Homo sapiens: one gene and its partners. The protein of the gene in region 4 interacts with the protein of the main gene of each other region in a pairwise test. Each region holds a gene or a part of one and is shown on either strand. Other genes may lie near its edges.

The links.
Region 1: the proteins of PSMB1 (region 4) and KATNBL1 interact in binary tests that used the Homo sapiens proteins (3 or more experiments, as listed by UniProt).
Region 2: the proteins of PSMB1 (region 4) and SCARA5 interact in binary tests that used the Homo sapiens proteins (3 or more experiments, as listed by UniProt).
Region 3: the proteins of PSMB1 (region 4) and ZNF177 interact in binary tests that used the Homo sapiens proteins (3 or more experiments, as listed by UniProt).
Region 5: the proteins of PSMB1 (region 4) and AGR2 interact in binary tests that used the Homo sapiens proteins (3 or more experiments, as listed by UniProt).
Region 6: the proteins of PSMB1 (region 4) and LZTFL1 interact in binary tests that used the Homo sapiens proteins (3 or more experiments, as listed by UniProt).
Region 7: the proteins of PSMB1 (region 4) and THAP6 interact in binary tests that used the Homo sapiens proteins (3 or more experiments, as listed by UniProt).

What each region holds. Positions count from the first base shown.
Region 1 is NC_000015.10:34,151,097-34,154,596, reverse strand, and holds part of KATNBL1 (KATNB1-like protein 1), read left to right. Parts: intron 1-1,527; coding exon 1,528-1,807; intron 1,808-3,500.
Region 2 is NC_000008.11:27,870,674-27,874,173, forward strand, and holds part of SCARA5 (scavenger receptor class A member 5), read right to left. Parts: intron 1,398-3,500; coding exon 1,261-1,397; 3' UTR 1-1,260. UniProt on the Homo sapiens protein: Ferritin receptor that mediates non-transferrin-dependent delivery of iron. Mediates cellular uptake of ferritin-bound iron by stimulating ferritin endocytosis from the cell surface with consequent iron delivery within the cell.
Region 3 is NC_000019.10:9,376,513-9,380,012, forward strand, and holds part of ZNF177 (zinc finger protein 177), read left to right. Parts: intron 1-1,746; 5' UTR 1,747-1,799; coding exon 1,800-1,832; intron 1,833-2,449; coding exon 2,450-2,576; intron 2,577-3,014; coding exon 3,015-3,107; intron 3,108-3,500. Other genes in the region: ZNF559-ZNF177 (zinc finger protein 177), read left to right, coding at 1,800-1,832, 2,450-2,576, 3,015-3,107. UniProt on the Homo sapiens protein: May be involved in transcriptional regulation.
Region 4 is NC_000006.12:170,536,308-170,539,807, forward strand, and holds part of PSMB1 (proteasome subunit beta type-1), read right to left. Parts: intron 1,034-3,500; coding exon 927-1,033; intron 1-926. UniProt on the Homo sapiens protein: Non-catalytic component of the 20S core proteasome complex involved in the proteolytic degradation of most intracellular proteins. This complex plays numerous essential roles within the cell by associating with different regulatory particles.
Region 5 is NC_000007.14:16,795,000-16,798,499, forward strand, and holds part of AGR2 (anterior gradient protein 2 homolog precursor), read right to left. Parts: intron 2,696-3,500; coding exon 2,632-2,695; intron 21-2,631; coding exon 1-20. UniProt on the Homo sapiens protein: Required for MUC2 post-transcriptional synthesis and secretion. May play a role in the production of mucus by intestinal cells. Proto-oncogene that may play a role in cell migration, cell differentiation and cell growth. Promotes cell adhesion.
Region 6 is NC_000003.12:45,825,120-45,828,619, reverse strand, and holds part of LZTFL1 (leucine zipper transcription factor-like protein 1), read left to right. Parts: intron 1-4; coding exon 5-181; intron 182-1,160; coding exon 1,161-1,264; intron 1,265-2,287; coding exon 2,288-2,306; 3' UTR 2,307-3,500. UniProt on the Homo sapiens protein: Regulates ciliary localization of the BBSome complex. Together with the BBSome complex, controls SMO ciliary trafficking and contributes to the sonic hedgehog (SHH) pathway regulation. May play a role in neurite outgrowth. May have tumor suppressor function.
Region 7 is NC_000004.12:75,527,500-75,530,526, forward strand, and holds the end of THAP6 (THAP domain-containing protein 6), read left to right. Parts: 3' UTR 1-2,527; downstream 2,528-3,027.

The DNA of each region.
Region 1 (3,500 bases), on a different chromosome or scaffold from region 4:
GGTAAGGATGACAATAAGGGAAAAATAAGCATTCTTTTATCATAATAATAATTAACTTATTGTCAAACAGCTTCTTTATGCCAGTATCTGCACTAATAAACACATCAATATTGTCTCTGCTCCTTACAACAGTCCTACTCTATAGCCTACTCTATAGATAACATTAACCCTAACAGTTGATGAGAAAACTTAAGATCAGATAAGTTAAATGATTTGTTCAGAATCATATAGCTAGAAAAGTGGTAAGAATGACATTCATTCTCAGATCTGCCTAACTTCTAAAGGCACTTTCTACAAAACGACTGGTTTTCAAAGTGTGATTTGAGGACCTGCGGGTCCCTAAAGACCATTCATGGAATTTGTGAAGTCAGAATTACTTCCATAGCAATACTAAGACATTGACTGTCTTCATTTTCATTCTCTTGTTTGAGGGTACAATATAATTTTTCAAGAAGCTATATGCCATTTGATATCACAGTAGATTGAATGGAGAAGCAGAAATGAGAACCCAGCTGTCTTTTGTTAAACCAGATATTAGAGATATATAAAAATGTAAAACAGTACCATTCTTCTCACTTTTTAAAAAATTATTTTAGAAAATATGGGTTTTGGGTAAGATATTCCATGTTAATATGTAATTAGTCTTTTTTTGAATGAATTAACAAATGATTTAAATTTTGTTTTAGTTTTTACACAGTAAATATCAATAGATACTATTCACATAAAAATTATTTTGGCCATGGCTCACACCTGTATTCCCAGCACTTTAGGAGGCCAAGGTGGGTGGATCATGAGGTCAAGAGATCAAGATCATCCTTGCCAACAGGGTGAAACCCTGTCTCTACTAAAAATACAAAAGTTAGTTCAGCATGGTGGCGCGCGACTGTAGTCCCAGCTACTCAGGAGGCTGAGGCAAGAGAATCACTTGAACCTGGGAGGTGGAGGTTGCAGTGAGCTGAGATTGTGCCACTGCACACTAGCCTGGCAACAGAGAGAGACTGCATCTCAAAAAAAAAAAAAATTTTTGAGTCATTAATTATTTTTAAGAGAGCAAAGCATCGTGACACTAAAACGTTTGAGAACCACTGTATTAAACGATGAGGCTTGCTCTATCGTGTTCTTACTCAAATAAATCAATATACTTCAGCTTAATTAAATTTTAAAATATTCACACTTGCAGTCTTATTTGCCACTTTGTTAGAAAAAGATCAGGTTTCTAGAAAATGTTGTGGTCTTCTTACTCCCAGAATGGCCTTTAATATTTCATTTTTAAAAGCATTCTGGTTATTATGTCTGTCTTCATTTTTATTTGGCATAAAATGTCATCCTTTACATTGTCTTCCAGATAATTTGTAATTTCCCTTTTACTTTTCTCTTCAACTCAGAATTAAGATTTTTAAAATTCTATTTATTTCTAATTTTAGTGGATTACAATCACCAAATATAGCCTATTAATTCTCTGTTTAAAAACTTTTAAAGGATTTCATATGGTTCTTTTTCATTTAAGAAAATAAATTCTTTTTACAGAACAGTTGGACAAACTGTGAAAAGCCCAGATAAACTTCGTAAAGTGATCTATCGCAGAAAGAAAGTTCATCATCCCTTTCCAAATCCTTGTTACAGAAAAAAACAGTCCCCTGGAAGTGGGGGCTGTGACATGGCAAATAAAGAAAATGAACTGGCTTGTGCAGGCCACCTGCCTGAAAAATTACACCATGATAGTCGAACATATTTGGTTAACTCCAGTGATTCTGGTTCTTCACAGACAGAAAGCCCATCATCAAAATATAGTGGGTTTTTTTCTGAGGTAAGTCTTTTCTCTAACTCATATCTAGTTTAACTTTGTTCCTGTTATAATCTTGATTTTTTTCTTTGCCATATTCCACTAGCAGAATAATTTGTCACCTATTGAATGTAGACTTATTTGAGTCATAGTAACTCCCTGAGACAATTTTCTAGATTAACCAAATTTGAATTAATAATTTATTCCATTTCTCTAAGATGGGATGAAATGCTTAGCAGGCTGCTAAAACTATCCAGAATGACAAGTTAGCCAGTAGAGATTTAAAGGAAGGGAAAAGGAGAAATCTTGCCTAAAAAAGTGGAGCACTAGGCCGGACACAGTGGCTCACGCCTGGAGCCCGAGGTGGGTGGATCACGAGGTTAGGCGTTTGAGACCAGCCTGGCCAACATGGTGAAACCCTGCCTCTACTAAAAATACAAAAATTAGCCGGGCATGGTGGGGGGCGCCTGTAATCCCAGCTACTCAGAAGGAGGCTGAGACAGGAGAATCGCTTGAACCCGGGAGGCAGAAGTTGCAGTGAGTTGAGATCACACCATTGCACTCCAGCCTGGGCAACAGAGCGACTCCGTCTCAAAAAAATAAAAATAAAAAGGACAACATCTGCAGGCAGATCACCTGAGGTCGGGAGTTCGAGGCCAGCCTGGGCAACATGGTGAAACACCCTGTCTCTACAAAAGTACAAAAATGAGCCGGGCATGATGGTGGGTGCCTGTAATCCCAGCTGCTTGGGAGGCTGAGGCAGAAGAATCACTTGAACCTGGGAGGCAGAGGTTGCAGTGAGCCGCGATCATTCCATTGCACTCCAGCCTGGGCAAGAGAGCAAGACTCCATCTCAAAAAAAAAAAAAAAAGTGGACCACCGAAGCCAGTTATCCAGACACATTTTGCCGGGCTCTCAATATTGCCTGGTTAAAGCATAGTTCAGGCAAACCTGCTGTGGTTTGCTGCTCTTCTGGCTCAAGCAAAACTGGTTAACAGACTCAAAAGCGTTTTTGAGAGTGATAGAAATATTCTAAAACTGGGCCTGGCCAACATGGCGAAACCTCATCTCTACTAGAAATACAAAAATTAGCTAGGCATGGTGGCACACTTTGGGAGGCCAAGGCAGGTGGTCAGGAGTTCAAGACTCGCCTGGCCAACATGGCAAAACCCCATCTTTACCAAAAATACAAAAATTACCCAGGCGTGGTGGTGCACGCCTGTAATGCCAGCTACTTGGGAGGCTGACGCTCAAGAATTGCTTGAACCCGGGAGGCAAAGGTTGCAGTGAGCCAAGATCTTGTCACTGCACTCCAGCCTGGGTTACAGAGTGAGATTCTGTCTCAAAAAAAAAAAAAAAAAAAAAAAAAAAAAAAAAGTAGGCAAAGGACACAATAGACACTTTTCAAAAGAAGACATACATGTAGGTGACAAGCATATGAAAAAATGCTCAGCCTAAATGCTAAACCTAAAATCACTCATCATTAGAGAAATGCAAATCAAAACCACAACAGGATATCATCTCATACCAGTTAGAATGGCTATTATTAAAAAGTCAAAAAATAATAGATTCTGGCAAGGTTGTGGAAAAAGAACACTTATACAATGCTGGTGACAATGTAATTTAGTTTCAGCCATTGTGAAAGCAGTGCGACAATTTTTCAAAGAACTTAAAACAATCTTATTATTGGATATATACCCAAAGGAATATAAAACAT
Region 2 (3,500 bases), on a different chromosome or scaffold from region 4:
CACGATCTCCCTGTCTCTAGGAGGAGGGTGCAGATTGCAGATTTATGGAGGCCCAAGGCCCCTTATTCCTACTCCCCACCCCCAGAGGTTATAGGGAATCTTCATTTCCTTCCCCCCTAAGGGTTCCATTAGGACTTGTGTTTTCCTGACCACAGATTCACACCTGAAGAGGCTTGGAAGATGCAAAATCATCACCTCCAAACAGCTGAGACACACATGACTTGGCTTTAACCGTGACTGCCCAATGCCAGAGCACTGGACTCAGGTTTAACATGGGCAGCCCCCATGTCACCCTCCACATCAGCTCTCCTCCTACATTGATGGTCGGCCTGGAAGCCAGTCATGTTTGACCTTGCACTCACGCCCTGGAGGTTCTGAAGTAGGCAACTTTCTAGTTACACAGGTCCTGCACCCAAGCTTTTAGCTCAGGCCAAGTAAAGACAATAAGTTCAGGTGGGCACACGGTCTCAGTCATTTTGTCTTCTTACTTGCAGTCTAGGTGAATGGACCAGTTAAGTGCTACCTGGAGGTAAGGCTGTATCCAGACTGACATGCCCTGGACCAATGCAGCTAAGTGGATACATGAATTTGGCACCCAAGATACTATTTAGCGTGCCATGGTAGTCATTCAATGTTAGTTTCATTCCCTTCTCCAAATCTAGCTGGATTCCTGCAGGTGACTTGCATTTCCCTCTTGCCCCTACAGCTGGCTTCTCCTCTATGTCACTTCCTCAAACTAGCAAATGGGGAGCAGAGGCAGAGTAAAGGGGGGAAATTCATCACTTGACGTTGCCTCTTGCTGGGGAGGAAGATGTAGAAACTCTTGGACTAATGGAGGTTTGGGAATTGTCTGAAGAGTAAATGATCTATACTACCAACCATCGCTGCTGCTGCACTTGTCTCTGACACATTCTCAGCATTCACCTGTAACTAAAAGGCCAAAGGGAACTGGGATATTGAGGCCTGGTGCATGGTGTTCAGAGGCTGGGCAAAGTGGTGATCCAGTTGATCAGGGCTCCTCATGCAGGAACCTGGTGGAAGAGAGAGACGGGCAGTAGGTCCCAGAGTTATACTTCGGAGCACATGTTCAAGAGGGAAATGACGACCGGCCCCCACGGTCCTGGGATGCAGGTGTGAGGACTGAGAATGCTGGACGGGGTGTGGTCGAGGCATGGTCAGGGTGGCCCCGAGCTGTGCCCCACCCCAGGGATGCAGGAAGGGTGCTCTGTGCAGGACCCCGAACTTGGGCTCTGCCCACTTTCAGTGTCTGTTGCATGTCACGCTGGCATCTTCGGCATGTCCACAGTTTGTCACCCCCCATTTGGAGAAGCTGCAGCGGAAGATGGTTTCCTCTGTGCCCTTGCAGGCAACGTCATCCATCCAGATCCTCCCAGTGCCTGTGGAGACAGGGAAACACAGCTATAAGCGGATACACAGGAGGGCGAGAAGGAGAAGAGAGAGCATAACTGTGCCTGCCCTTGACTTGGCTCTGCTGTACACTCAAACCTAGGGGCTTCCAGCTGCCCTCTCCACGCCCCCCGAAGACCTCATACTTATTTTCTGGGATTAGTTTCTTGAGGGCAGAATCACAATAATTGTTGGTGATGATGGTAGTAGCTACAAATATCAGCTATGTGTCAGAAGCCGGACAACCTCTCCTTTTTAGTGGCAGCGTCAGGACTGGCTATTAAAGTCTTAAACTCTGTCATTCACTCTTGAAGTACGTGGGTAAAATCCCTTTACAAAGAATGTCAAGGGAACATTTAAACCACTTCCCTGCTGTTTGGCTCTAACAGATGAACTAAGTGGCTTGAACATATTTTTGTTACGTAGACATTTTCAGCCCCTGTTGTCACGGGATTGCCATGCAGTGAATCCGGGGATGGAGGAGGGAGGAGAGGCCCCTTCCGCCACCTCCTTGGATGTTGTTTCTTCTCCAGAGCCTCTTCCTGGCCTGGATAGCTGTAGCTCTTACACAATAAGCCCTTTGAGGCAGAGAATGATTTGCAGATTAAACGTCTCCTGGAAGACACATCGGTTTACAAATTACCCAGGAAAAGGCTGCAAGCCCCAGGGCTCTGTGGGATTAGTCACACCCAAAGCAAATAAAGAAGACTAACAAATAAAGAACAGTTCCAAGGTGACCCAGCCCAAATACGTATATAGGATCTTGAAACTCTAGCTGGTGTTTCACCAGGGGGTTCTTGTTCACATCCAGTCACGGGAGGACCAATACAATGGGAACACGGTCATCAAGGGAGGAGCAGTGCATATCTGCAGTGACGTCAACACTGCGGTGGCGGGGGATCATTCCCGGAGGAATTTGCCAGCAAACTCTCTCTGCTCCTTGCACCACCAGGCAGAGGCTAGAACCCTGTCAGCTCTAGGTACCAATCATTGTTTTAGCTTTAGAACTGATAGCTGATTACTCAAGGTGTGCAGTTTGAAGACCAGGGCTGTCAGCATCACCAGAGAGCTTGTTAGAAAAGCAGACACACAAAATCTTCCTTCAGCTTAATCTCTCCCACTCTAGGTTCCCACGCCGCCCCTAATCCCGCTCGAAGCAGCCCTGAGAAACATCACCCATTATCTCTCCATACCATCCCGCCAAAACTTTTGCTGCCCCAACACTTCAACACTATTTTATGTTATTTTTCTTACTAATATAAGAAGACAGGAATGTCAGGTCTCTGACCCCAAGCTAAGCCATCATATCCCCTGTGACCTGCAAACATGTATGTCCAGCTGGCCTGAAGTAACTGAAGAATCACAAAAGAAGTAAAAATGGCCGGTTCCTGCCTTAACTGATGACATTACCTTGTGAAATTCCTTCTCCTGGCTCAAAAGCTCCCCCACTGAGCACCTTATGTCCCCACCCCTCCCCACCAGAGAACAACCCCCTTTAACTGTAATTTTCCACTACCTACCCAAATCCTATAAAACGGCCCCACCCCTAAATCCCTGCGCTGACTCTCTTTTCTGACTCAACCCGCCTGCACCCAGGTGAAATAAATAGCCTTGTTGCTCACCCAAAAAAAGAAAAAAAAGAAAGAAAGGCAGACTCTTGGCCAGGTGCCATGGCTCACGCCTGTAATCTCAGCACTTTGGGAGGCTGAGGAGGGCAGATCGTTGAGATCAGGAGTTCAAGACCAGCCTGGTCAACATGGCAAAACCCCGTCTCTACTAAAAACCCCGTCTCTACCCCGTCTCTACCAAAAACACAAAAATTGGCTGGGCGTGGTGGTGCACGCCTGTAATCTCAGCTACGCAGGAGGCTGAGGCAGGAGAATCGCTTGAACCCGTGAGGCGGAGGTTACAGCGAGCCGAGATCATGCCAGCTTGGGTGACAGAGCAAGACTCAGTCTCAAAAACAAAACAAAACAGCAAAAAACCAAATTATTGAGGCCTCTGTGTGCTCAGTACCATTCTGATGAACAGAAAGACAAAACAACAGATGCAAAAGATTTCTGCCTTATAGAGCTAACGTTTGAGCTTCTATG
Region 3 (3,500 bases), on a different chromosome or scaffold from region 4:
GATTTGATGACTTTCTGTAGTGATACGCTTTGATTTCTTTCTCTTTTCTCCATAATATAGGTTCTTGCTTTGTGGCTACTATGAAGCTTAAAACATCCTGTAGTTTTAATAGTCTGTTTTAAGCTGTTAACAGCTTAGCTTTGATTGCATACAAACAATTTATACTCTTCCATTTCCCACATTTTATGTTTTTGATGTCACAATTTACATCTTTCTATATTGTATATTAACAAATTATTATAACTTTTTAATATTTTTATCTTTTAATCTTTTACACTAGAGATAAGTTATTTAGATACCACTGTTACAGTATTAGGGTAATCTGGATTGAGTATATAATTACCTTTACCCCAGTGGGTTTTATAATTTCATATGGTTTCATGTTACTAAGTGTCCTTTCTTTTAAGCTGAAGAATTTACTATTTCCTATAAATCAGCTCCATTACTGATGAAGCCCCTCATCTTTTGTTTGTCCAAGGAAGTTTTTATCTCTCCTTCATTTCTGAAGGCCATTTTTGGCAGGTAAAACATTCTTGGTTGGCAGTACAGTCATGCACTGTGTAAAGACATTTTGGTCAGTGATGGTCCACATATGTGACAGTGCTCTCATAACATTTTAATAGTGCTAAAAAATTCCAATCACCTAATGACATAGCCAGTGTAACATTGTAAAGCACATTACTCACATGTCTGTCATTTAAACCTGCTGCACTGCCAGTCATGTAACAGTAGTAAATATGGTTATGTACAGTAGATTATATACAGTACATAATAATGAATAGTAATAAGTGACCACATTACTGGTTTATATATTTTTATACTATTTATTGTTATTTTAGAATGTATTCCTTCTACTTACTAAAAAAGAAAAGTTAACTCAAAAACAAGCCTCAAGCAGATGCTTCAGAAGACATTCTAGAAGTCATTGTCACCATAGGAGATGTCAGCTCCGTGCATGTTATTGCCCCTGAATACCTTAAGTGGGACACGGTAGAAGGTGTCAGACAGTGATACTCAAGATCCTAACCCTATTTAGGCCTAGATTAATGCGTATGTGTCTTCGTTTACAACAAAAAAGTTTAAAAAGTAAAATCGGGCAGGCAAAAAGGGCCTGGAAGGTAGGCTACTGAGTTAAGAAGACAGAGTCCTAGCTCTGCTATAAGATTTGCAGCACTAGATTTTGATACATATACAGCTAAGTGTACTAAATGTTGTTCTGGAATGTCACCCTTTTATTATGAAATGCAAATATGCTCACCTTTATGGTCCTTATGAGTTACTCCTTATTGTTCTAAGTAATTTCGGGATATTAACTCAGCCCAACCCTATGAAATTGGTCCCATTCTAACAATGAGGAACGTGAGGGTGTGATATAAGATATTCCAAACTCATCTTGAAGATTTCTTAGTCTATACTAGACTCAGCTATTTCTCCAGTGAGTCCTGGTTTCTGTCACGGGTAAATGATATTCAGAGACAGTTTTGCACTTTAGAGGCTCATTCCTCCTGAGCTGTTAGCAGTCATAAGCCTTTTTAGTGGTTCAGGCTAGAAAAAAGTCCAAGAAAAAATGAAAAATGCATACTATATTTCTAATTTGAGGATATACTGTGTTCTTGGATAAGGAGGCAAATTGTAACTACACTCTATGTGTATGTTGTTACCCTTTAGTAAGAAGAAGCTTCCCAGCCTGCTAGTGTTGAACATCTAGCAGGCCTAGACTCTAATGGCTTCTGTGTTCTCCTCTAGCTCTGCCTGCTTAGGACTCTGCCCAGCCAGGAAGGAAACCTACAGGAGGAAGAATGGCTGCAGGGTGGCTGACAACCTGGTCACAGGTACACAAGAAATTTCTCTATTTCCAAAAGCACACTGCCATTCCTGAAAAGAACACATCTCTTGCCCCTGACCTGAAGCTTCACAGCCCAATCTGAGCTGGCTTCATCTTCCGCAGCTCCCAGGCTGCTTCATGTGGAAGAGGGAATCCCTGGGAAAGGCTTCTGTTCCCACATTTGTTAACTTTCTCCAGATATTCTTCCATATTTTTGAGTATGAATTCCATACTGTAGTGAGTGCTGTAAAGAAAGACTTTTACTAGGAAAATTATTTATCATTTCTCAAGTATTTCTTGCATTCCTACAGTATGCCCTGTCTATACTGGATCTGAATAAGACGAAAAGAGTCCTCACAACCTAACTGTGCAAAGATCAAGCCAACCATATTTTAGAAAAGCTGTTTTGACCATGACCCTGAATGAGATGGCCCAGGGAGTAGGATTTAAAGAGAGTTCTGAGAACTCAGCTTTAAGGCAAATTAAGAGAAGGCCTCTGATGCATGTCTGAGCTTCCAGTGCCCTGAGTCTCCTCTCCAGTCCTGTCAGCCTCACCCACCATTCTCCTGGTACATTGTCAAAAATGGTCATTGGCTGAGCCAGAATATGTATGTGATGTTTTAGAACTCAGTAACCTTCCAGGAAGTGGCAGTGGACTTTTCCCAGGAGGAGTGGGCATTGCTGGACCCTGCTCAAAAAAATCTATACAAAGATGTGATGCTGGAGAACTTTAGGAACCTGGCCTCAGTAGGTAAGGCTGGCCTCATTTCTTCATTTGTTTATGTAGCAAATAGTTCTTAAGCACATATTATGTTCCAGAATCTGTGGAAAGAATAGCAATACAGTGGTTAACCCCAAAATGAATGGTCCCTGCCCTTGAGGGGGCAGTCCAGTGGCTTCCCATGAAAATGCACTGATTTCATTTTCTCTATCACTAATAGCTTAAGGTAATTTGCAATCTGTGTCTCATCTTGTGTATAGGTTTCAAGGGTCACTTCCATATAGGGCGTGGACCATGCTTTTTGGTTCTTGTGAAAGAAAGAGCTCGGCTCTGATTGTTTTGTTGTTCCTAAAGCTGCACTTGACTATTTTAATAATCCTTTAGTTAAAGCCAAAGTATGGCAATCAGTTTTGTGGAATATTTAATTCTCACACATTTCTCCCACATCCTTGCTTTCTGCGTGAGCAGGGTATCAGCTCTGCAGACACAGTCTGATCTCCAAGGTGGATCAAGAACAGCTGAAGACAGATGAAAGAGGAATTTTACAAGGTGACTGTGCAGGTGAGCCTTGGGCAGAACAGGGTGCAGCCTTGGCCAGTGAGGGTTAGTACATTTGGGAATGTCACTCAGTGAAGGAAAAGAAATCTGAGGCCATGACATGAGCTTCCTTCCTGTTTCACCATCTATTCAATCGTTCATACGTTCATTTGGTCTCCGAGAAAGAAGTTTTAATTCCTCTTTAAATGTAATGTCTCCATGAATGCTTTTTGCCAGATAATACTGTCTTATTTCCCAACCTCCACAATCCTTTCTAACTAAAATACCTCCCATTTCTACTGCTTGTTCCTATCACTGGTGAATCACTGGTTGTGTCTTCTTTCTTACATTTCTCTACTTAGAAGATATTATTTGAAAACAAATCCATAGGGTCTCCCTCCCTTTTTCTTTGATCCC
Region 4 (3,500 bases):
ACACATAAACTGATTATAAAAAGTTAAAGTGATCTCTCAATGTTCTCCTTTGTTTTTCATTGTGTTTAGTGCGATTATTATAAACCTTAAATAACAAGTGGCCCAAACAAAGCACTATTAGTGATGCTGGAACTGCTCCCCAAGAAGCAGGGAAAGTTATGACATCACAAGAAAAAGCTGAATTGCTTGATATGTACTGTAGATTGAGGTCTGCAGCTGTGGTTGTCCACCACTCCAGACAGATGATTCTCCTTGTAAACAGATGATGTAAACTTACAGTATCAACAAATACAGTATTGTAAATGTATTTTCTCTTCCTATAATTTTCTTAATAACATTCTCTTTCCTGTAGTTTATTTATCATAAGAATACAGCACATAATACATATGTAAAATACGTGATAATCCACAGTTTACATTATTGGCAAGGCTTCCAGTCAACAGTAGGCTTATTTGTAAGTTTTCTTGGAGTCGAAAGTTATATGTGGATTTTCCAGTGCTCGGGGAACTGGCGCCCCAATCCCCGTGTTGTTCAAGGCTCAACTGTATGCTTGGGAGTTCAAGTACAGTATTGGGTAACACAGAAAGGGGGGGTAAGAGGGAAAAAGGCATTTTTATGATCTTCAGGTAAAGACAGCAAGAGAATTAGCCACTACAGACATAAAAGAGTTGGAAGCCATGAGAATACAGGAAAACAATCAAAACCATGGGAGTAGGTAAGGACCCACAAGAGAGTAGGCAGAACACAGAGAGAGACCATGAGGTTTCTGTAGGACACGTCTGCCAAACTCAAACAGTAATTTATAAGAAAGTCTTTATATCTTGGCTCTCCTAAGCTAATGAAGAGGAGAACTTGGAGGAAGGCACTTCAACTGAACACCATGACAAGTTGGACATAGTATCATTACCTGGACACAGTATCATTACCTGGTTGTCAAGCAGGGGCTGTAGCATGGCACTTGCTGAGCCTCCAGCCTTGAAGGAGTCTCTCTGGTAAGACCCTACTGGATCAAAGCTGTATACAGCCCCCTTTCCTTAAAGAAGAAAACAGTATTCATAAGGATGGTATCCAATCACAATCCCAAATCATCGCAAAAATAAATCAGGTCAAAACGTGACACAAAACGGACTATCACCTTGGCTAAAACTTCAGGGAACAGTTGGAACACAGCCACTGTTGCACTGGTGACAGCTGCAGCACACACACTGTTGCACATGTGACAGCCAGAACCCAGTCACCATTGCACAGGTGCCACCCAGCAGACAGCCCCAATCCCCGTGTTGGTGTGTTGTTCAAGGGTAAACTGTAGGCTTGGGAGTTAAAATACAATATTGAGTAACACAGAAAGGGTGGGTAAGAGGGAGAAAGGCATTTTTATGATCTTCAGGTAAAGATGACAAGAGAATTAACCACTGCAGATGTAAAACAGTTGGAAGCCATGAGAATACACAAAAATAATCCAAGCCATGGTAGTAGGTAAGGACCCGTAAGAGAGTAGGGAGAACACAGAGAGAGATGGTGAGGTTTCTGTAGGACACATCAGCCAAACTCAAACAGTCATTTGTAAGAAAGTCTTTATTTCTTGGCTCTCCTAAGCTAACGAAGAGGAGAACTTGAAGGAAAGCACGACTTATGTATATAGACAGGTCCAAGGGACACATCCGCAAGACACAGTAAAACGAAGAGAATTCTGTAACCTGTAAAATACGATACTGCTTTTGTTTAAAAGAATAAGAAAACTATTTGTACAAGCACAAAAAAGTCTGGAAAGATAAGTAACTGTGGCTGGTCATCTTTGAGCTCTGAATTAGAGGCAAGAAAAGAAGGGAATTAATTCATGTGCTTCTATCTTATTTGAGTTTGTTACAAAGAACACAGGTGATTCTACAATCGTTAAAAAGGCCTGTTAAAAACAACCGTGTTCTGGGTATGAGAAATCACGAGTCATTTACAAGGTATGATTTTTTAAAAACATAACTGATTTAGAAAACACATTATATACCAGAACTCAGTACCCTGGGAGATGTGATATAGGGACAATCTCCTTACTAACCATGTACAACTGCCACTGTTAGCTTTGTATGTTTTCTACTATAGAACTGCGTAAACTTGGCCAGGCGCGGTGGCTCACGCCTGTAATCCCAGCACTCTGGGAGGCTGAGGTGGGCCGATCACGAGGTCAGGAGTTCGAGATCAGCCTGGCCAACACAGTGAAACCCCATCTCTACTAAAAATACAAAAATTAGCTGAGCATGGTGGCACGTGCCTCTATTCCCAACTACTTGGGAGGCTGAGGCAGGAGAATCGCTTGAACCCAGGAGGCGGAGGTTGTGGTGAGCCGAGATCATGCCACTGCACTCCAGCCTGGGCAACAGAGCGAGACTTGGTCTCAAAAAAAGAAAAAGGATTGTGTAAACTGAATTCTCTGGTGGAGAAGGCACCATCTGAGGTCACCTAAGAAACTGGGAAGTATTTTTGCTGGAAGCAAGCTTGGGACAAGACATGAGATCACAGCAGGCAATCCACTAACCTCAATATACAAAAAAAGAAAGAGATGTAAGGTGTAAAGGCAGAAAAATGATTGTATCTCTCATGAGGATGACAGGCCACAAGTAAACTGAGGCCCAAAAGCTTTACCCAAGGATGGAACCAATCTCAGAAAACCACACACAACAAATTTAAAAAAATAAACCAAAGAAAGGGTGGGCTATGTCCAAGAACACAGCTTTAAAGACCCCCTAGAAGAAGCAAGAGAGACACTAGTAAAATCAGTATAAAACAGCAAAAATCAATAAATAAAAACAAAAATAAATGTAGAATGGCATGAATCTTGATTACAAAGTGCTTTTCCTCATCAAAGTAAAATCCAAAAAGCACAATCATTTCAATGTAAAAAATAAAATCAGACAAGTCTTAAAAGAAATACAGCTAAGCTTTGGATGGGAGAAGTTTTTCTAACAAGGCAAGAAACTGAATGTCATAAAGAAATGATTGACAGATTAGACTGTATGAAACACAGCAATTTCTGTGTAGCAAAAGGCACCACCCAAAAGAGACAAATAACACTCTTGGGAGTATCTATAATATCACAGACATTTGACACAGTCGAATGTAGTTCTTGAAAATCAGTAAGAAGAAAACTAACCTGCAAATAAGGAAATGGGCAACAGTTAATATATGAATCAGTCTCCAAAGAGGAAATTTATAAAGTCAATAAACATATGAAAACATGCCCAAGAATATATATAAATGAAAATAATAAACTGTTCAATAGGCAAAAAGATGTTTCAAAATGTGTTAATTCTAATACTGGGAAGGTTATATAAAATCGGGTACTCAGGGTACTGGCGTATCCTTCAGAAAGAGTATACTCAACAAAATACAAAAAAAAATTTATCTGACCCAATACTTCAACTACTCGAAGTTTATTCTAGCAAGACAAGCATAATTGGGGAAGTACACAAAAATGTATGTACAAGGATGTTCATCATAGTGTTTAT
Region 5 (3,500 bases), on a different chromosome or scaffold from region 4:
TCTAACTGTCAGAGATGGGTCTGCAAAGATAAATGAAGCAAAAGGGAATGGAATGGTTTGTTTTCAAACAACCTGTATTTATTGCCCCGGGGAGCTGAAGTTCATGTATTCATGTCCTGTGAGGGAATGGAGTGTGTCTGCACTCACAGGAGCTCTGATCCATCCACTCTACTACCCAGCCCCTGGCAGTTAGTAGCAAATGCAGGGCTGGAAACATCAACAGCTGTGCAGTGCTATTTGTGGAAAAGGTTATGAACCCTTCTGTTCTATCTATGGCAACCTGAAAACAGAATAATATATATTTAGGGGTGACATGGTGTTTTTTTTTTTTTTGGTGAAAACATTAACATTCTCTACTGCAAAATTATTTTAAATTCTTGAAACGATTATGTTGTAGTTTACATGTTTCTAGATCATTGGAAACCCACATCCAATGCTAGTTTTCAAAACGAGTTTTTTAAAAAAAGTTAATAGAGGAATGCAAGTCCTTAACAACAGCAAAGTTCAAATAAGCATATAGTACCTTCACTATATTTTACTTTATTGTTAATTAACTGCATTTTTAAAAGTAGAGATTGGTCTTCTCTTATGTATACTTATATCCCTCTAAATTTAAATCCATCTTGCCATGTTTTGTATTTAACTTGAAGTGATCTAATTAATGAGAAAAAGAGGTATTTTAAAATTAAGGTGCATCCAAAAGGGAAGCGTGAGGATACAGAGAGATCTGGAAACCTTGCCTTGAGAGACGTAATCGAAAGAACCTAGGACACGTGCCCTGAAAATGAGACAAGGAAGACATGTGAGAACCATCTGCATGTTTGCAAAGTCTGTCGCTGGTACTGGAGTGGGCAATCTGTCATTTCAGAATGTTGGACTAAGGCCAGACACATAAATTACAAGAAGCAGATGTACATTTATTCACCAGATTTAAGACCAACTATACTTCTGTTTGGTGCAGAGGATACAAAGACACGGTCTAATCTTTGTAAGAAATTAACCTAAGAAGGGCTTTTTAAATACCCAACTAGCAGCTCACCTGGCTGCACATTGGAATCATCTGGAGAGCTGTAAACACTATGGATGCCTGCCTCCCACCCCCAGAGATTCTGATTTAATTGGTTTGAGGTGTGGCCTGGGCAACTTGATCTTTAAAATCCTCCAGGTGATTCAAACATGTAGTCAGGGTGGCTACTACGGAGCTAGAAGAGCAAGCTGCCTTGGAGCTGGTTCTTAGGACTGAAGGAATTGAATGTGGGTTAAAATGCCCTTCCACAGGGATGCTGTACAAAGAATTCCTGTACAAGGTATGAACAGACATCTATAAATTCCCTTTTAATGTTAGGATTCCAAATGTCCTAAATTCTGACAAAACTAAACCTATAAAATTAGTGCTTTAGTTCAGCCTTCTTCCTTTTTTTCTATTTCTTGTTTTTCTTTTCCCTGCTTTGTACATTCAGTGTAAACTTTTAATGAATTACACAGGTGAATCATATGATTAGCATGAATTGTTGTAAGTGATGGATTTCATTATGGATTGTCCTTAAATCAGTATGACTTTGAACAAAGCCAAACTCAGTACATTCATTCAATAATTAAACACATATTGATGGAGAGCCTACTGCAGGGTCACGTTGGGAATATCATGGTGAGCAGAAATAGGTACAGTCCCTGCCATAGGGGCTTATAGTCCAATGTGGGAAATATTTATTACATAACCACCCCCAAACTGCAAAATTATACCTGAGGAAAGTATGACTACAAGAGCACATAGTAGGGATTTGACTCGGTCAATGAATAATGATGATTGGGGAGTTAATGATGTGAAATTGGGGGACAGAGAAGGAAGTGGGGAAAGCATATGAAAAGTACCAGTGGCAGGAAGGAGCATGTGGCTCCTTTCATTTCTTTTTCCCACCTCATATTCCTTTTTTTTTTTTGAGACAGAATCTCGCTCTGTTGCCCAGGCTGGAGTGCAGTGGTGCCATCTCGGCTCACTGCAACCTCTGCCTCTTGGGTTCAAGCAATTCTTGTGCCTCAGCCTCCCAGGTAGCTGGGATTACAGGCTCCTGCAACCACGCCTGGCTAATTTTTTTTTTGTATTTTTTAGTAGAGATGGGGTTTCACCTTGTTGGCCAGGCTGGTTTGGAGCTCCTGACCTCAAGTGATCTGCCGGCCTTGGCCTCCCAAAGTGCTAGGATTACAGGCGTGAGCCACCCAGCCTTATTCCTAACTTTCTTAAAAATAATGATAAAAAATGTCAGAAAAATCTAACACACAAAGTGAAAGTTTGCTGGATTAAAAAATAAATATTTGCAGGCCTCTCGTATTCAGGAAATTTATCAATATGTTTAAATAGTGAATAGGGTGCTTTGTTCTCAGAAGTATTATAGCAGAAGATGAAAAGTTACAATTAGCATGTGAGAAAAGAAAGTGTTGTGTGGAAATAGGTAAAAGCTCACATTTTCTAAAGAAAATATGTTGCGGAACTTAAAGGAATGTCATGCTCCTTGCTAGAGCTTAGTGATGACATTGGCCATGGCAACGTGGCAAGGGACAGTGGGGAGGAGAGAAGGAGGATGGCAGCACTAGTATGTGTTTCCGAGTTATCTCACTGTCACTTCCGCTTACCAACAAACATAATCCTGGGGACATACTGGCCATCAGGAGAAAGGTGTTTGTCAGTTGTTTCATACTAAAATAAAAAGAAAAGCATCTTTTAGTTTACTTTGACTTTTCAGTCGTTTTCAAACTTGTTAATACAAGAATCTGTCCATTTCCGGCCAGGCATCTCAAGATATCATAACTCTTCCACACAGAGTTTATTGTACAGATGAGGAGACAAGTTACAAGCATGAAATAATAAATAAGATAGAGCAGAACATGAGATAAAGTGCTGAATGGATGTGATAAAGAGCAAAAAAATTAAGGGAGAATTTGGAAGGAGTTACTGTGTTTGGGGAAGACATCTGGGATGAAATAAGAGGCTATTAAGGAAAAAAGCAGATGTCATTTCTAGAGAAATTACGGAGACAAGTACGGGATTTTCTTGAGTATTCATTTATCCATTTATCAATTTTTATTTAGAACTGTATTTAGCAAGGCATGGTGCTTATCTTTAATGAATGCACACTCTATTGAGAGATACAGGTAGGAAAATGAATATTGAGGATGCAGTGGGTGAAATGTTACGGTGTAGGATATGCAGGTTTGGTGATTGCCTTGAGCAAGACATTTAGCCCAGAATGCAGATTCCACCCCGACTAGGACTTTCTGAAGTGGATAAGGAGGAATCTTTACAAATGAACAGGAGTCAGTTAGGTGGAAAAGAAAGACACTTCATGCAGGGGGAAGAGTATGGAGAGGACAGGTGGAGCATTTTCTCCTATGGCCAAGTGCTGGGGAAGGACTGAGTTGGGGGGATGCACGAGGGCAGTGGCGAAAGAAGGTGCTAGAGCTGCTTCAGGGGCCGGCTTAGGAATGACTTTGCACACCATGCC
Region 6 (3,500 bases), on a different chromosome or scaffold from region 4:
ATAGGATTTTATAAAGGCCCAAGACTTAAGTAACTTAGAAAACACTGTCGCTGCCTTAAAGAGTGAGTTTCAGAAGACACTTAATGACAAGACAGAAAACCAGAAGTCACTGGAGGAGAATCTGGCGACAGCCAAGCACGATCTACTCAGGGTTCAGGAGCAGCTGCACATGGCTGAAAAGGTCAGAAGACCATGTTTAAGGGATTTGTCTGTTAATGCATGATTAATGCACACAGTATAGAGGAATACATGTGGCTAAGATAAACGTTGGACAACTGCAAATTCAGATTATTTTTTCTCAAGGTATTAGCCAATATGTTCTAAAGATTAATCATTTCCGGGCACTGATATTCTTCCATCTTTGGTACTAAAATATCTGTGATAATAAGACATCTCCTCTCCCTCTATGGTGTAGTGAAATGCTCCTCTGTAGGTGGCTTGAATCCTGCCCTACATCCCACCATGTTGCTCTTCTGCTCCTTCTTCCCACAGCCTGCAGAGGGATGAGGGACTGTTTTTTTTAAGGACTTCTATACTTTTGTCATAATTTATATAAAATATGTAGAGAGCTAGATTCTTCACTTTGGGGATTAGACTCTTAAGAATATGGGAGTTGAGGCCGGGTGCAGTGGCTTGTGCCTGTAATCCCAGCACTTTGGGAGGCCAAGATGGCAGGATTGCTTGAGCCCAGGAGTTCAAGACCAGCCTGGCCAACATAGCAAGACCCCCATCTCTATAAAAAAATTAAAAATTTTTTCATATAAAAAATGGGAAAAAAGAATATGGGAGCTAAAATTTAACTAAATTAAAAATCATTTTGCTAAAATACACTACTATGGGACTTGGGAAAAAAGTGTGCTTATTTTACAGGAAAATTAGTTTAATATTTCAAATAGATTTATCATATCCAGGGCTTGAGTTATTTACCAACACTGTACTTGGGAAAATGTTACTATTTTATGGCTTCTCATTTGAAAGAATATATTTTTAAAGTTTGGATAGTCTTAGTTTTATATAAATGTGTCCTTTAAGGAAATTAGAAAATCATTAGCAAAATACTAGTAAAATTCAAGCAAAAAAAACTACATATTTTTATCGCATTTGTTATCTCTTTCCTTAACTATTTTTTTAGTAATGGGCTGACATTTTTTACTAAGCAGGAATTAGAAAAGAAATTTCAGCAAACAGCAGCTTATCGAAACATGAAAGAGATTCTTACCAAGAAGAATGACCAAATCAAAGATCTGAGGAAAAGACTGGCACAGTAAGCCACACTGATCCCGCCTTTGGATTTCTCTCTCTGGATTGATGTTTGTTCTCTGTTAAATCTAAGCTTGTTCCAGAGAGGTCAAGCCGGTGGTAGTTGCTGGATCATTTAGTCCAGAAGCCTTCATTTGAGGAAAGTGGAGGAGCTCTGGCCTGACCTTATCTATAATGCCCACCAGGGCTTCTTTTTAGGTTCATCTAGGCCTTTAGACTCACACAGGCCTACAGTAAGCTGCTCTTGGCAATGGATTCACTTAGCAGGATGTCAGACAGGAAACACAGCAAGCTCGCAGGGCAGCATTAGGTAGTTCTCTTCTCCTTGGTGGTATACTCTAAGCAGTCCAAGAACTGGTCTTACTGTTCCCCTAAATGACAGTTTAAGTTGGAGAGAATGAGATTCATGCAGATGGGTGTCATAGCCAGCTTGGCTTAGAAGTCCGTGTTCTACATAGGATTAGTATCTCTCTTAGCAGTCACATGATACCCAGTTAAGGGTATGTCCAGTTAAAAGAACTCATCGCACAGGGGGAAACCTAAAGTGGTGGCTCCCACCATGTATTTATAGTTCATTCATAGTCCTCCAGGTCCAGATGTGGTCATCAGATGTTTTGCCTGGAAACTGAGTTGACATTTTACCTTTATCAGAGTTCCAGGGGAGCAGAGCTAGAAAGGGAATTCAAGGTGAGATTTGTCCTTAGAGAAGTAGATTTGCTAGCCCTTTACTCATATAGTCGTATCAACTGTTCTTGTCAACATGATGATTGAGGTAATTATATGAAGTTATCACAGGTCTAAATGCCAAATATACAGACTTGGAGCCTTAGCAGTGATCTGGCCTATCCTCCTACCTGATGTAAAAATCCCCTCTGAGTCACCATCAAAACAAAGTTGAATGTGTCCAACTTCTACCGTAACAGTAATTTGAAGTGAGAAATATAGTGCCACTGCTTCAAGTAAACTTATTTGGTAATAACAACAACAAAAGGTATCCTGACATTGTGTTCTTAATTTATATCTCCAGATATGAACCTGAAGATTAAAACTGAAGATTTCCTCTGGAAGCTACCACATGCAAACATACAAGCAGTCTCACCTCAGGCATGTATTTTGAAAAGCATTTTGTCATATCCCCTCTCCTTATTTTTCTAATATTTAGACTTTGAATATTTAGAACTAGAGTTCCTATTTTCAGCTAGTTGAAAACAGAGAAAACCTAGTGATTCTGTCTGGTCATCCCACACACCTCTCTACTGAGTGCTCCAGAGTCTTAGCTCACATGCACTGAGAATTCTTTACAGCAAAGAAGAGATTTTTAGAGTGGGAAGAAGAGGCTTATCCTTCTGCATTAGTATAAAGAGTCTGTATTTTTAATAAATGTTAAATAAGCTAACAATGTTTGTACTTATGCATTCCCCATGGGTAAAAATAAATAATAGCATTGTTAAAGATAGTTATTACCAAAAAAAGAGAGTTATTACAAATAAATATGTCTCTTTATTTTTAAAAATGAAATCTTAATTCATTTACTCTATTTGATGATAAACTATAAATTCATTGAAAATGTGAATTCTATTATGGGTAGCCTTTTTACCAATTATAAGGAAAATTTACAGCAGTGAACATGAACATTCACTTAGCTTCCTCAGTCTCTCCATCTTAAAGATCATTTATCAGAGGAGGTTCAGCATTTTTTGCAGCATAACTTTTCATGAGTCTGTATTACTAATGGATAAGTCAAATCCATCCTGCACTTCTACAGTTTAGAAAGTATCTGGACTCAGAATAAATGTAATATTTATACTTGTTTCCAGAATGTTATTTTACATTTTATGTTCAATAAGAACACTTTTTAAAAGACGTATATTCAACATAAAATCAGCTATCAGACTTCAGATTAGACTTTATTTATGTGGGTCTATAATAATTGTATTTTCAAGAGGTTTTCACTATATTTGTATTGGCCTGGTTTTCTCAGACGATTTTGGACAAATCATTAGAAACTGGGCATCATATCCACAGTTATGTAAGGCAGTGATATACTATAAGGATAAACAAAGTCAAGTCCATAAAGCAATAATCCCTCAGAAGGAAAGTCCTTACTTTTCACATATTAATATTTAGTAATTTTTCCTGCTTCTAAAAGTGAGAGTATCACACCCTAAATGAACACTGTCTACTAAGAGACATCATTCCATTTCCACAAATGAAGATTTTATTCCAAGAAACGAGTTTAC
Region 7 (3,027 bases), on a different chromosome or scaffold from region 4:
TGATGTCAAATTAGTCACATTAAGCTATAGTAGAAGGAATTGGACACTTCTCCAGATATTTGGCTTCAAAGGAGTACCTTTACTTACATGTGCTTTATGGTAAGTACATTGAATTTTACTTTAAATGCATTTTACTACAAAGCACAATTCATTTGTAATGCATATCCATCTTGGATTCAATCCAAGGTGCTTTAGCTATCAGTAGTACCAAAGGATCTTTTTACAAGGCTTCCTGTGGTATTGACTCTGAGAATAACACATAGTGAAGATCTGTGGGCTTTTAAAATTGTTCACAGCCAATTTAAGAAGACCCCTCATGAAGTCTCAGTTTTCAGTACAGTACATCATTCCTCCTCACTAGGAGCACTTTGATGTAAACCAGAATAGCTTTAAAAAGACAAAAAGGATCGTAGATCTGATTTTTAAATGGTTGGTTGCTCTGACAGATCTGAACACTTTGCTTCATGACTATTTCGTCATAAAGGTATATGTTTAAAATCTGAATGGCAGTACTAGCTCTATACTTTTAATACTGCTTTGTATTTTATATGTAAAGTAGTATTGCTGACATTTTAAAAAAATACAAAATACAAAAGAAACCATTAGAAATTAATAACTGTGGCTCTTCCAGTTGAAATAGGAATTGGAGAGAAAGGATTAGAATATTTTAATTAGGGGAGTAGATTATTGTCCAAAGGCTTTTATTTAGAGAAACGGGTAATTAAAACAGCAGCTTTAGAATAGCTTCTTACTGAATATGCAAAAGAATAATTCCTTGTTATTTCCTAATTGATCCAAGTCTCATAAATTTAGCTTTTGTCATAATTCCTTACCGAAAACAACTGAAATTGAGAGTCATAAATACTGTGGGTTAGAATAAAAACCATTTGCCAAAGCAACACTCTACTTAGAAGCACATGTACATACATGGACCTCATTCAGAAGTCCATGTTGTAGCAGTTAGAATTTGAGTATCAGCCATTTCATTGTAGTAACAAAAATTGAATTGCATTTTGTGCTCAGTTGTTTATTGTAATTTTATTTTTGTTACATTAATATTAGTTAAGATATGGTCACTTGAATTTTTTGTATTTAAGAATTTTCTGTTTTAATGCATGTTATACTTTTATGTAGGATTCCAAACCTTCCCTCTAAATGGGATTTAACCCACATCTGCGAGATCAGCGTTATGCTAAGAGGAAATCACTGAGGCCATATCTTTTTACAATCTGAAAAAAAAGTAGTAAAAAGGTAGTTAAAAAAAAAAAAGGCCGGGTGGTGGCTCATACCTGTAATCCTAGCACTTTGGGAGGCCAAGGCAGGCAGATCACTTGAGGTCAGGGGTTCAAAACCAGCCTGGCCAAGATGGTGAAACCCCATCTCTGCTAAAAATACAAAAAAAAATTAGCCGGGCATGGTGGCACGTGCCTGTAATCCCAGCTACTTGGGAGACTGAGGCAGGAGAATTGCTTGAACCCGGGAGGCGGAGATTGCAGTGAGCCAAGATCACGCCGTTGCACTCCAGCCTGAGCAACAGAGCAAGACTCCATCTCAAAAAAACAAAACTACTTTCATTAATTACCCATTATTTATTTTAGTTACTTAATTTTGAGTTCATAAATGGCCACCCTAATGGAAAGTTTGGGTATGATCTTAGGTTTTATGGAGATGTTTTCAATAGAGATTATTTTTCCCTCACCCTATTTGTGAATATATAAATTAAAGTAAGACAATGGAGTAAGTAAGAGGGTAGATCCAAACACAGTATGTCTAAATTCTAGCACTCTACTGGCTGCTTAGAATACACCAAACCTGGAAGACCTTTCCAAGAGTAAAATCCCAGTCTGCCACTATCAAAATTGCCACAGTCACTTTTACTACTTGTGTTCATAGTAGACTCAGCACTTCTTTTTCACTGGACCTAGTATAACTGAGAAATAAATAACTGTGTGCAAAATATTGGTATCATTAAGGACCCAGAGCTGCCCATTTTCTCTTTGTTCTAATAGGGAAGCAATTACTGATAGAAATGTGAGATTAAAAATAGGGTCCTCCCTGCTGCTCCAAACAAATGCCTAAACACAGTATGTATCTCAGTCCTCTGTTCCCAGAGATTCCACCCTAGCCCAGGAAAGAACTGGCCTGTGTAAAGCAAAACCCAAGTCATCCCCCTCCAGAAATTTCTCTGGCAGCCAAGCCTGACCCTAAGGGTTCCACTTTGCTTTAAAAGCTAGGAGTGGCCTCTAGAGCCAGGAACACATTAATACAACAGTTCAACCTCAGCACCAAGTCAGGTACGAAGCGCTTGATACGTGGAATTTTTCTCTATATCAAGTTTAAATTTCTGGAAATAGACTTTGGTTGCTAATGACAATTACAGTTATACCATAGTCTGTAATTTGAGAAAAGGTGAAATGTATTTAATATATATTTAGTTTTAATAAAAAGATAAAATTATTACAGAAATAATTGAGAGAGAGAAAATCTATTATAATTTATTTGAAAAATAAAACATTTTATCCAGTAATGTGTTATGTGGTTTTATACATTGAGTTATTCAATAAAATGGGCAGAGAAAAATGAAGAGTACGTACGTAGAGGTTTTGCTCTAATTTCTCCTCCACCAATAACTCTAATATGGGGTCTGCAAGGTTAGATGACCCACGTAGCAGGCCAGCTTTCAGCACAATATGGACCTATCATAGAGCCCTTTTCTGCATTGGCCCTCACTCAAAACTGTCAGATATGATGTCACCCAGTATATAAAGGAGAGCAGCATTCCTAGGTGTGAAATATGCTGCCTTTAGAACCCAAAGAGGCCTGTCAGGCATTGTGCTTTCTTCTTCATAGTGGAACATACAGGTTGTAAATAACTTGTCTCTTACTTTAGAGGGGATGTCTTAGCATGCCGCAGATCACTGGATACTTCTCCCCCAAAATTTTACTGATGTTTATAGGCCCCTGAATTTCATAAGTTTTATCTCACCATCTGGAGCACATGTGCTTTATCAAGGCCTCCAATTAACT